2 linked regions of the Homo sapiens genome follow. The protein of the gene in region 1 purifies or fractionates together with the protein of each later gene. This does not show direct contact. Each region holds a gene or a part of one and is shown in the gene's direction. Other genes may lie near its edges.

Region 1 (3,588 bases):
AGTTTAGTCACCTCTGAGCCACCCATCACCGCCAAAGTGTGGGGGAAGGATAGCTGCAGATTGACAGGCGAGGCTCAGAAACTCCTGGCTTAGATTGAAGTGTGTGTGATGGGGGTGCAGCTTAGAGGACCCCCTCTGAAAGGGATGGAGATGCTGATGAGAACAACACTACCACTTGAAGGTGAACATTCCCTGTCTGGTTGGACTGAGTCAAGGGTCTGCGGTGCAGCATCTTCAGCTTGAGAAAATGAGGTTGTCAGTTTCCAGCAAGGCTGACATCCACCAGACTGATTTCTCCGATGTTGCACTTGGCTGGCTTATGCCTCTGAGATCGGTGCCACGGCTGTATTTATTTCAGTTGTCACTGCTGCTCCCTCCTGCTATGAAACGACACTGCCAGTGCCAGCAGTGTCCTTGGGAAAGGCAATATTTATGAAGGGCAGAAGAGGCAGCCCCAAGAACCTAAAGACTGCAGGCTGCTAATTGCAGGAAATGACTTTGGAAGGGCAGGCTCTTGTCCAGTTTCAGGGCTGAAATGCCTGGCGAACTCCATTCAGCCATCACATATTGACTGAGTGGCTGCTTAGCATGGGCCACCGCGCTAGGCTCGGGACAGCTGGTCTTTCCGGCCATCTTTCTTGCTGGCAAGTCAGCAAACATTACCTTCTTAGTCACGTGCATATTTTTGCCTTCATTCTTACCACCTGGCCTGCAAAGTTTGCAGGAGGGCCAGGTATATTCACTTGTGTCTTCTGGGTCCTTTCATTGCTGACAGGCTGTGATGGCCCTCTTGAGCCTTGGGCAGGGTGGGTGAGGTGCAGATGACCAGGAGTGTGTGAATGCCTTCCAGGAGGTGGCTTTGTTCCGTGCCTCCCTGCCCCCATCGTCACTACCAGGTCTGGTACGGAGTCGGTGCTCAGTGTTTGCAAAACAGAGCTGAAAACGGACTTTGGGAGGCCGAGGCAGGCAGATCACCTGAGGTCAGGAGTTTGAGACCAGCCTGGTCAACATGGTAAAACCCCATTTCTGCTAAAAAAAAAAAAAAAAAAAAAAAATTAGCTGGGCATGGTGGCGGGTGCCTGTAATCCCAGCTATTCAGGAGGCTGAGGCAGGAGAATCACTTGAACCTACGAGGCAGAGGCTGCAGTGAGCCAAGATCGTGACACGACACTCCAGCCTGGCTGATAGAGTGAGACTCCGTCACAAAAAAAAAAAAAAAAAAAAAAAAACCCTGAAAACGCAATCACTAAGGCTCGGTCAGGGAGTATGTTCAAAGAGCTTGCAGCGAATCACTCAATTCTGTCTACACCTCAAAATCTCAAAATCTTCCTGGAATATATATATATATATAAAATAACACAGCAGCCCTGCATGCCTAGCCATGGGAAAGCACAGCCTCCAAAGGATAAGGAAAGCTTTTTGAGTAAATACAACATCCTAAAGTGACAATCTTTGAAACAAGGCCGTTCACCTGTTGCCAAGTCCTGTCCTTCCAGGACCGGGTGTCACAGCCTGGATGTTAACAGTCGCGTTCTCAGACCCCCGCCTCTGTATCTGTCTCCCGGTTCACCAGCAAACACTTCTCTGAGAAACCACCTGGGTGCAGGGCAGATGCCACCACTCAGCAGGTGTTTCTCTCCTGTGCTACCAACCTGGGAAAAATGGAGAAAGCTTGCTTTGGGGGCTGGAAGGATGGGGTGTTTAAAACATTTGCTCTTCTGCAGTGCCTTTCAAAAGCTCTATCAAGAGCCCGAGGCAAAAGAAAAGATGTGTACCCCTCTGTACACTGAGCAAATGTCCTCCCATATTTTGAACCAGGTGGGAAAAGTTAATGAAAGCCCTACAGTCAGGAAATGTGACTGCGAAGCCCCCGCTGCCCCAGTGTTTGCACACCACTGGCAACTCTCAGAAACAATCAGTCCCATTGCACGGGAACACGGGGTTTTGAAACAAACAGCAGCCTGTTTTTATTTAAAGTCGTGATCCCTTGCTTATCGTAGATTTTTTTCATAATTTGATTTTGGAAAATATTGCACACAAATACTACTCGATCCCTGAGTTTGTGGGCACTTCCTTACATTTTGCACCCATGAAAATGCCTCCTCCGCCTCCAGGTCAGGCTCCCTGGAATGGGGTGTTTAGTGTCATTTCCAGAGACAAGCTGGCAGTTGGCTCTTGTGTCAGAGAGAAGCCCACAGTCACAGTGACACCAGCCCGCACTGTGGAAGGGCTTGCTATGTGCAGTGCCCTGAGCCAAGTGTTCCACAGACATTATCTCATTTGAACCCCATAGCAGCCCTGGAAGGAGGCATTGGGTGGGGAACCAAGTTGTCCTGGGGAGTCAGTGCCAAGATGTGAGCCCCGGACGCGGCCTCGTCACTCACAGCCCCGTGCTCCTCAGCTCCCACCCACTGCCGCTTGACAGTCGTTTTAATCACTACCTGGGCTGTGGCGAACAATGCCAGGCTCTGATAGATCCTGCTGTCTCATTTCTCAACCTAGTTTCCCTTAACTAATATTTCATGGCTATCGTTAATGTGCGTTTTTCATCGAGTAATTTCCACAGCCCGAACTTGTAACACATCCCAATGACAAACGTCCCCAGTTCGGAAGCCCCCGTCAGTGGCAATGTCACCCTTGCTGCTGCCTCGACACCTTCCGACAGCCCATTCAGTTTTATGATCGCCCTGTCCCAGTGATCACTACTGAACCTTTAAGAATCCAGATGCATTTCAAGTTTAATTGAATAAAATTCTTTGTATAATAAATTCCGCATGAATGCTACATAAATCAGTGCCTGGAAGGATTTGTGGCTCATCCCTCCCCTCTGGCGGGGCCTGAGAATCTTCTGGCAATACTGACACAAGCTGGAATAAATGCATCTTTGCAGTCAGTCCAGCTAGAGGCAGGCGGCACAGTTTTAACTTGCCTTGGCCTATTGCTTTTCTTCTCTCAGAGTCCTCCTGGAAGATAGTGCTAAAGTCCAACAGAGGCAGGGACAGGCAGATTGCGGAGACCTAGAAACTTTGGGGACATCCCTCGTGTTCTCCCATTCCACAGAATCAGAAACTTCTCAAGCTGTGGTTTGTCACCTTTGGAATGCACACACACATATTCACAAGTTTGCATCCAGTCATAGGAAGTCCATGGAACCTCCCGGTAAGAATCCCTTTTCTAAGAGAACCCATGCGACCCTCTTCGGGAGCTAAGTCAGGATTCCCAAGGCTGCCTTCAGCAGCCTGTTTCAGGGTCAGATAGCTCCAGCCTGGAAGGGTGAGAAGATGCACTTGGGGCTGGCTGGGAGAGGCTGCTGGGTGACCTTTGATGCTTGTAGGGTTGTGGGGTGCAGGGAAGGACTGTCAAACAGCTGGCTTGGGCACTGGCCCCAGGCAGGCTCAGGTTCAAGGCCAGCTTTGTCACCTCCTGCCTTGGTGACTGGGCAAGTCATTCCATCTGTCTCGGTCTTGCTCCTCCACCTATAGAATGGGAATCATAACATCCACCCCATGGGTCACTGGGATTGTTTAATGAGGTAATACTTAAAAGAGTAATATTGCCCCCTGGCAAATATTAGCTCCTGTTATTACA
Region 2 (7,298 bases), on another chromosome or scaffold:
ACATGGTAAAACCCTGTCTTTACTGAAAAATACAAAAATTAGCCCGACATGGTGGTGGGTGCCTGTGATCCCAGCTACTTGGGAGGCTGAGGCAGGAGAATCGCTTGAGTGGGGGAGGCAGAGTTTGCAGTGAGCCGAGATTGTGCCATTGCACTCCAGCCTGGGCAACAGCAAGACTCCGTCTCAAAAAGAAAGAAAAAAAGAACTTCATTGTGCTCCCAAAGCCTACATCATTGTGCTTTGTTTGTGACTTCCCTTCAAAGATTGGGTGAGGGAAAAGAACTTTGTGTCCCTAAAGCCAAGAAAGGCTATTTTAATGAGCCTTTAATGTTCATTCATCAAATATTTATTGATGTATTATGGAAGGCACTATGATGGTCATTTGGGGTTTTTAAGAAGGTCATTGCTGGCCGGGCGTGGTGGCTTACGCCTGTAATCCCAGCACTTTGGGAGGCCAGGGCGGATCACTTGAGGTCAGGAGTTCGAGACCAGCCTGGCCAACATGGCGAAACCCCGTCTCTACTAAAAATATAAAAATTAGCCAGGCATGGTAGTGCACGTGCCTGTAACCCCAGCTCCTTGGAAGGCTGAGACAGGAGAATTGCTTGAACCTGGGAGGTGGAGGTTGTGATGAGCCGAGATTGCCCCATTGCACTCTAGCCTGGGCGATAAGAGCAAAACTCCATCTGAAGAAAAGTAAATAAAAAATAAAAAGGTCATTCCTTTCAAATAGCTCAGACTAGAAAGGAAGATAGGAAGACACCTCTATAAACAAATACACCGTGGGCCGGGTGCCGTGACTCACGCCTGTAATCCCAACTCTTTGGGTGGCCCAGGTGAGTGGATCACCTGAGGTTGGGAGTTCGAGACAAGCCTGACCAACATGGAGAAACCCTGTCTCTACTAAAAATACAAAATTAGCCGGGCGTGGTGGCGCATGCCTGTAATCCCAGCTACTCGGGAGGCTGAGGCAGGAGAATCGCTTGAACCCGGGAGGTGGAGGTTACTGTGAGCTGAGATTGCGCCACTGCACTCCAGCGACAGTGTGAGACTACATCTCAAAACAAACAAACAAAAAACAAATACATTGTGTAAGAGTAATCAAAGAGATCACTTCTGGTAGATGATGATGTAGAAGGATCAGACATTTCAAAATAAGGAGCATTGCAACTGGGCATGCTGGTGCCCACCTGCGGTTCCAGCTACTTGGGAGGCTGAGGTTGGAGGATCAGTTGAGCCCAGGAGTTCAGGGCTGCAGTGAGCTGTGGTCGCAGCACAGCACTCCAGCCTGGGTGATAGAGCAAAACTCTCTTAAAAGAAAAATAGCATTTGAATTTTTTCCCTTTAAAAGAAAAAAATCTTTTTTTTTTTGAGACAGAGTCTCACTCTCTGTTGCCCAGGCTGGAGTGCAGTGGCTCCATCTCGGCTCACTGCAAACTCTGCCTTTCGGGTTCAAGCAATTATTCTACCTCAGCCTCCCGAGTCGCTGGAATTACAGGAGCGTGCCACCGTGCCTGGCTAATTTTTGTATTTTTAGTAGAGATGGGGTCTCACCATGTTGGCCAAGCTACTCTGGAACTCCTGACCTCAAATGATCCACCTGCCTCACCCTCCCAGAGTGCTGGGATTACAGGCATGAGCCACTGTGCCTGACCAAAAGAAAAAATCTTTTATTTAAAGATTTCAATAAGTAGTGCACATTCATTATGTACGAAGTACAAAAAAGGCAAAACATTACCTATAATTTCACAGACCAGAGCTAACTACTGTTATATTGTGGTATATATCCTTGCAATATTTTGAAGACTTAAAAAATATATGTGTATATTTATGTATACCATGTATCTGCAGTATATATTTGTGTGTGTGTGTGTTTTTTTTTTTTTTCCAGACAGTGTCTTACTCTGTCACCAAGGCTGGAGTGCAGTGGCATGATCTTGGCTTACTGCAACCTCTGCCTCCCAGATTCAAGCCATTCTCCTGCCTCAGCCTCCCAAGTAGCTGGGATTACAGGCGTGTGCCACCACCCCTGGTTAATTTTTATATTTTTTGTAGAGATGGGGTTTCGCCATTTTGGCCAGGCTGGTCTTGAACTCCTGGCCTCAAGTCATCTGCCCTCCTTGGCCTCCCAAAGTGCTGGGATTACAGGCATGAGCCACCGTACCCAGCTGTACAGTTCTTTACCTAGCATTTCTTGTGATGTAAATATGAAAAAATGCTATGTAAAGAAATCAGTAAAATTTGAAAACTTAATTTTTAATTCCACACTATCATCTATTTAATTTTTCCTTCCCACATTTTTTTTTTCTAGGTTAATAATAAAAATTGCTCTGGGTGCGGTGGCCCATGCTTGTAATCTTAATACTTTGGGAAGCTGAGGCAGGTGGATTGCCTGAGCTCAGGAGTTTGAGACCAGCCTGGGGAACACGGTAAAACCCCGTCTCTATTAAAAATACAAAAAATTAGCTGCCGAAGTGGCGTGCGCCTGTAATCCCAGCTGTTTGGGAGGCTGAGACAGAAGTATCACTTGAACCCGGCAGGTGGAGGTTGCAGTGAGCCAAGATCACGCCCTTGCACTCCAGCTTGGGTAACAGAGCAAGACTCCGTCTCAAGAAAAAAAAAATTGCTAACTGTATATGAGAAGGCAAATAATGTCTTTTAAGTTTTGAAATGGGATGGTGGGTTTCTGATAGCTGAAAATTGAGAGAAAGGGCATTTATGCTTGTGCAACAAATAATACTGAAATACGTATATGTAGAGAAAATTCATAGAGTAGGGGAAGACATTTTGGGAAAGTTTTTTTTTTTTTTTTTTTTTTTTTTAAGATGAAGATGAAGTCTTGCTGTGTTGCCCAGGCTTGAGTGCAGTGGCGTGATCTCAGCTCACTGCAACCTCCACTTCCCGGGTTCAAGCGATTCTCTTGCCTTAGCCTCCTGAGTAGCTGGGACTACAGGTGCATGCCACCACACCAGGCTAATTTTTGTGTTTTTAGTAGAGACGAGGTTTCACCATGTTGGCCGTGCTGGTTTTGAACTCCTGAGCTCAGGCAATCCGCCCTTCTCGGCCTCCCAAAGTGTTGGGATTACAGGCGTGAGCCACCATGGTTGGCTGGGCAAAGGATTCGTGCCTGGAAAAAAAGGTTGATGTTAGTTCCTCTCTTGGATTGCTATAGTTCACTCATATAAATGTAGATACTGAACTCTTATGCAAACTCATTATGTATGTGCTTTGATATGTAAACTATTTCTTTAAAATATATTCATATACTTAAACCAAATAACACCAGCAGATGCATACAAGAGCTACCTCTTGAGTCATTTTATCTCGAACCTCACTTCCCAATGCAGAATAAATTGCTCCCTCATCCATGTTCCCATAGTGTTGTATAAAGACCTGACCTCACAGTCTTATAGTTCCTAGTTCCTAGTCTCACTCATTAGACTGTGAATTCCTCAAAGGCAGAAGCTATATTTTAAACATCATTGAATCCCTAGCACTTACTACAGTTCTGGCATAGTTGTTTTTAATTGACTTTTCCTCTCTACAGCTGAGGAGGATGAGGACAAGGAAGATGATTTCCGAGCTCCCCTTTACAAAACAGTGGAGATAAAGGGCATCCAGGTGCGCATGAAATGGTGTGCCACCTGCCGCTTTTACCGTCCCCCTCGATGTTCCCACTGCAGTGTCTGTGACAACTGTGTGGAGGTAAGCACCCTGGGTGGGGTAAGACTTCATGCTTAACCTTCATTGTCTTCATCCTAACCATATAATAGATTCTTAGCTTTGGATGTGGTATAGTCCTGTCTAACTACGTTGGCCACATGGTCCAGCTCTGTCAAATGGTGTTAATAATGACATGGCATGAGAGGCAGAGCATAAATATTATTGCAGGAGGGAAGCTTTAACTCAATATGGGCATAGGCTTTCTTTTTTATTTATTTTTACTTTTTGTAGTGATGAGGTCTCACTGTGTTGCTTGGACTATCTCAAATTCCTGGCTTCAAGTGATCCTCATGCCCTGGCCTCCCAGAGTGCTGAGTGCTGGGATTACAGGCATGAGCCATTGCACTAGCAGGGTGTAGGCTTTCTTGACACCAAGATTTATAGTTCTAGCCTTCTATCTATTGGCTCAGTTTTGGTTATTTATCCTGGCTTTGCATTTTCTCTTCCAGAAAATCATGCTGTTGTGTTTCAATTTGTTGTAGTTGTTTTCCTGCCTGTCCTTCTGCATCCCTTGTCCTTTTTCCATTCCATTTTCACTTAGCTATAAGCAGTTACCTGCCAAATCTTCCTTCTAATCCTCTTTTCTTATGAATCTTGATGTTTCTGCAAAACCTCTGACATTCGTCACTTTTAGAGTTCCTTGGTCACATAGGATAAACATTGAGAGCCGGCCTTGGTCTTTTTTATATATATATATATTTATTTATTTATCGAGACGGAGTCTCGCTCTGTTGCCCAGGCTGGAGTGCAATGGCGCAATCTCGGCTCACTGCATCCTCCGCCTCCCGGGTTCAACCGATTCTCCTGCCTCAGCCTCCTGAGTAGCTGGGATTACAGGCACGCGCTACCACGCCCGGCTAATTTTTGTATTTTTAGTAGAGATGGGGTTTCACCATGTTGGTCAGGCTGGTCTTGAACTCCTGACCTCGTGATCTACCCGCCTCGGCCTCTCAAAGTGCTGGGATTACAGGCGTGAGCCACCGCGCCCGGCCAATTTTTTTTTTTTTTTTTTTTTAAGAGATGGGGTCTTGCTATGTTGCCCAGTACAGTGGCTATTCACAGGCAGTCATCATAGTTCACTACAGCCTTGAACTCCTGGGCTCAAGCCCCAGCCCCCCAAGTAGCTGGGACTACAAGTGTGCACCACTACGCCTGGTTGGCCTTGGCCTTTGACCAACCTCTGGAAGGTCTCCCTTGCAGATTTATAGAGCAAAATAAACTGGATTTAATTTTGAACTAATTGGTGACCATGATCAAAACTTAGCTGCCATTTGTTTCTCTTCTTGACAGAAGTAATTTAATGCTATGGTCCAGGGATGCCTCTCATCTGTCTCTCTTTGTCCCTAGGAATTTGATCATCACTGCCCCTGGGTGAATAACTGTATTGGTCGCCGGAACTACCGTTATTTTTTCCTTTTCCTCCTTTCCCTGACAGCCCACATTATGGGTGTGTTTGGCTTTGGCCTCCTTTATGTCCTCTACCACATAGAGGAACTCTCAGGGGTCCGCACGGCTGTCACGTATCCTTCAAGGCCTTTTAGATTGTGGGATTGGAAGGGGGAGGAATGAGGGCTAAAGGGAAAATGGCTGCAGTAGGGGCCGGGGAAAGTGAGGTCATGTTGCTCTGTTCTCCTTGATTGTTTGGCATCAGAATGGCAGTAATGTGTGTGGCTGGCTTATTCTTCATCCCTGTAGCTGGCCTCACGGGATTTCACGTGGTTCTGGTGGCCAGGGGACGCACAACCAATGAACAGGTATGGAGAAAAGTGACGAGAGACCCCTGAAGAGCAGGTCATGTCTCTTTAGCCTTCTGATTAGTGTGCAGTGTAGTGCTTCCACAAAGAGATGCTTAATGAATACTTTTCATGATTATGTAGAGATTAATGGTAGGGAGTGAGGTAGTCCTAGTTCCTCATGTAAGTGTAGAGGCCATGTAAGAATAGAGGCCATTTCTCACATATACACCATGGAATACTATGCAGCCATAAAAAAGGATGAGTTCTTGTCCTTTGTAGGGACATGGATGAATCTGGAAACCATCATTCTGCGCAAACTGTCGCAAGGACAGAAAACCAAACACCGCATGTTCTCACTCATAGGTGGGAACTGAACAATGAGAACACTTGGTCACGGGGTGGGGAACATAACACCCTGGGGCCTGTTGTGGGGCAGGGGGAGCGGGGAGGGATAGCATTAGGAGATATACCTAATGTAAGTGACGAGTTAATGGGTGCAGCACACCAACATGGCACATGTATACATATGTAACAAACCTGCATGTTGTGCATATGTACCCTAGAGCTGTAAGTATAATAATAATAAAGATACTCTCAAAGAGATACTAAGACAATAGAGATAAAGGCTGAATTTTGCCCTAAAATATCTTTTTTTATTTTTTATTTTTTTGAGACAGAGTCTTGATCTGTCGCCCAGGCTGGCATCCAGTGGCGTGATCTTGGCTCACTGCAACCTCTGCCTCCTGGGTTCAAGCGATTCTCCTGCCTCAGGCTCCCAAGTAGCTGAGATTACAGATGTGCATCACCACGCCCAACTAATTTTTGTATTTTTAGTAGAGACAGGGTTTCACCATGTTGGCCAGGCTGGTCTCGAACTCCCGACCTCAGGTGATCCACCCACCTCAGCCTCCCAAAGTGCTAAAATATCTTTTATTTATTTATTTATTTATTGTAATTTTAGTAGACACGGGGTTTCACCATGTTAGCCAGGATGGTCTCGATCTCTTGACCTCGTGATCCGCCCACCTCGGCCTCCCAAAGTGCAGGGATTACAGGCATGAGCCACTGCGCCCAGCCTAAAAATATATTTTATAACAAAATAATATCTATCTCCAAAGAAAGTCTTGGATGGTTTGGCATCATCACCTGAAATATCAATTGAGAGACCCAAACCAAACTGAAACTAGACAATATAGCATAAAGAATAAGATGATAGTTTTTTAAACAATACTCACCATAGAACTTGGTATCCAAATAATAGTATTCTTTCTTTAGTTTGTCAAAAATCATATTAATAGATTTTTAAATTTAAAGTGTAGCAAGACATATGTATATGTACATATATGTTCATATACATATAAATATTTAAGATCTTCCTAAAAAAAAAAAAGAATAGAGGCCACTTCTTAGTTAACAGACATTTACTATATGCCCACTGGATACTGGAGAATTTAGGCTCTGAGTTTATAGAAACAATGAAAGACTTAGGCTAGCCCTCAAGAAGCTTATAGTGCTGCTTACAGGAAAGCAATGATTTTTGTGCATATAATAGTAGCTAACCTTAATTGCTTTTTTTTTTTCTTTTTTGAGACAGAGTATCGCTTTGTCACCCAGGCTGGAGCCCACTGGCTGGAGCCCACTGGCTGGGGCGCAGTGGCACGATCTCGGCTCACTGCAACCTTTGCCTCCTGGCTTCAAGCAATTCTCCTGCCTCAGCTACCCAAGTAGCTGGGATTGCAGGTGCCTGACACCATGCCCGGCTAGTTTTTATATATTTTTATAGTAGAGATGGGGTTTTGCCATGTTGGCCAGTTTGGTCTCAAATTCCGGACCTCAGGT

Evidence for each region.
Region 2: the proteins of MMAB (region 1) and ZDHHC5 purify together in Homo sapiens (co-immunoprecipitation; 2 studies listed by BioGRID and IntAct, with this or other methods). This does not show direct contact.

What each region holds. Positions count from the first base shown.
Region 1 is NC_000012.12:109,552,917-109,556,504, reverse strand, and holds the end of MMAB (corrinoid adenosyltransferase MMAB precursor), read left to right. Parts: 3' UTR 1-2,790; downstream 2,791-3,588. UniProt on the Homo sapiens protein: Converts cob(I)alamin to adenosylcobalamin (adenosylcob(III)alamin), a coenzyme for methylmalonyl-CoA mutase, therefore participates in the final step of the vitamin B12 conversion.
Region 2 is NC_000011.10:57,684,961-57,692,258, forward strand, and holds part of ZDHHC5 (palmitoyltransferase ZDHHC5), read left to right. Parts: intron 1-3,547; coding exon 3,548-3,705; intron 3,706-5,070; coding exon 5,071-5,243; intron 5,244-5,374; coding exon 5,375-5,477; intron 5,478-7,298. UniProt on the Homo sapiens protein: Palmitoyltransferase that catalyzes the addition of palmitate onto various protein substrates such as CTNND2, CD36, GSDMD, NLRP3, NOD1, NOD2, STAT3 and S1PR1 thus plays a role in various biological processes including cell adhesion, inflammation, fatty acid uptake, bacterial sensing or cardiac functions.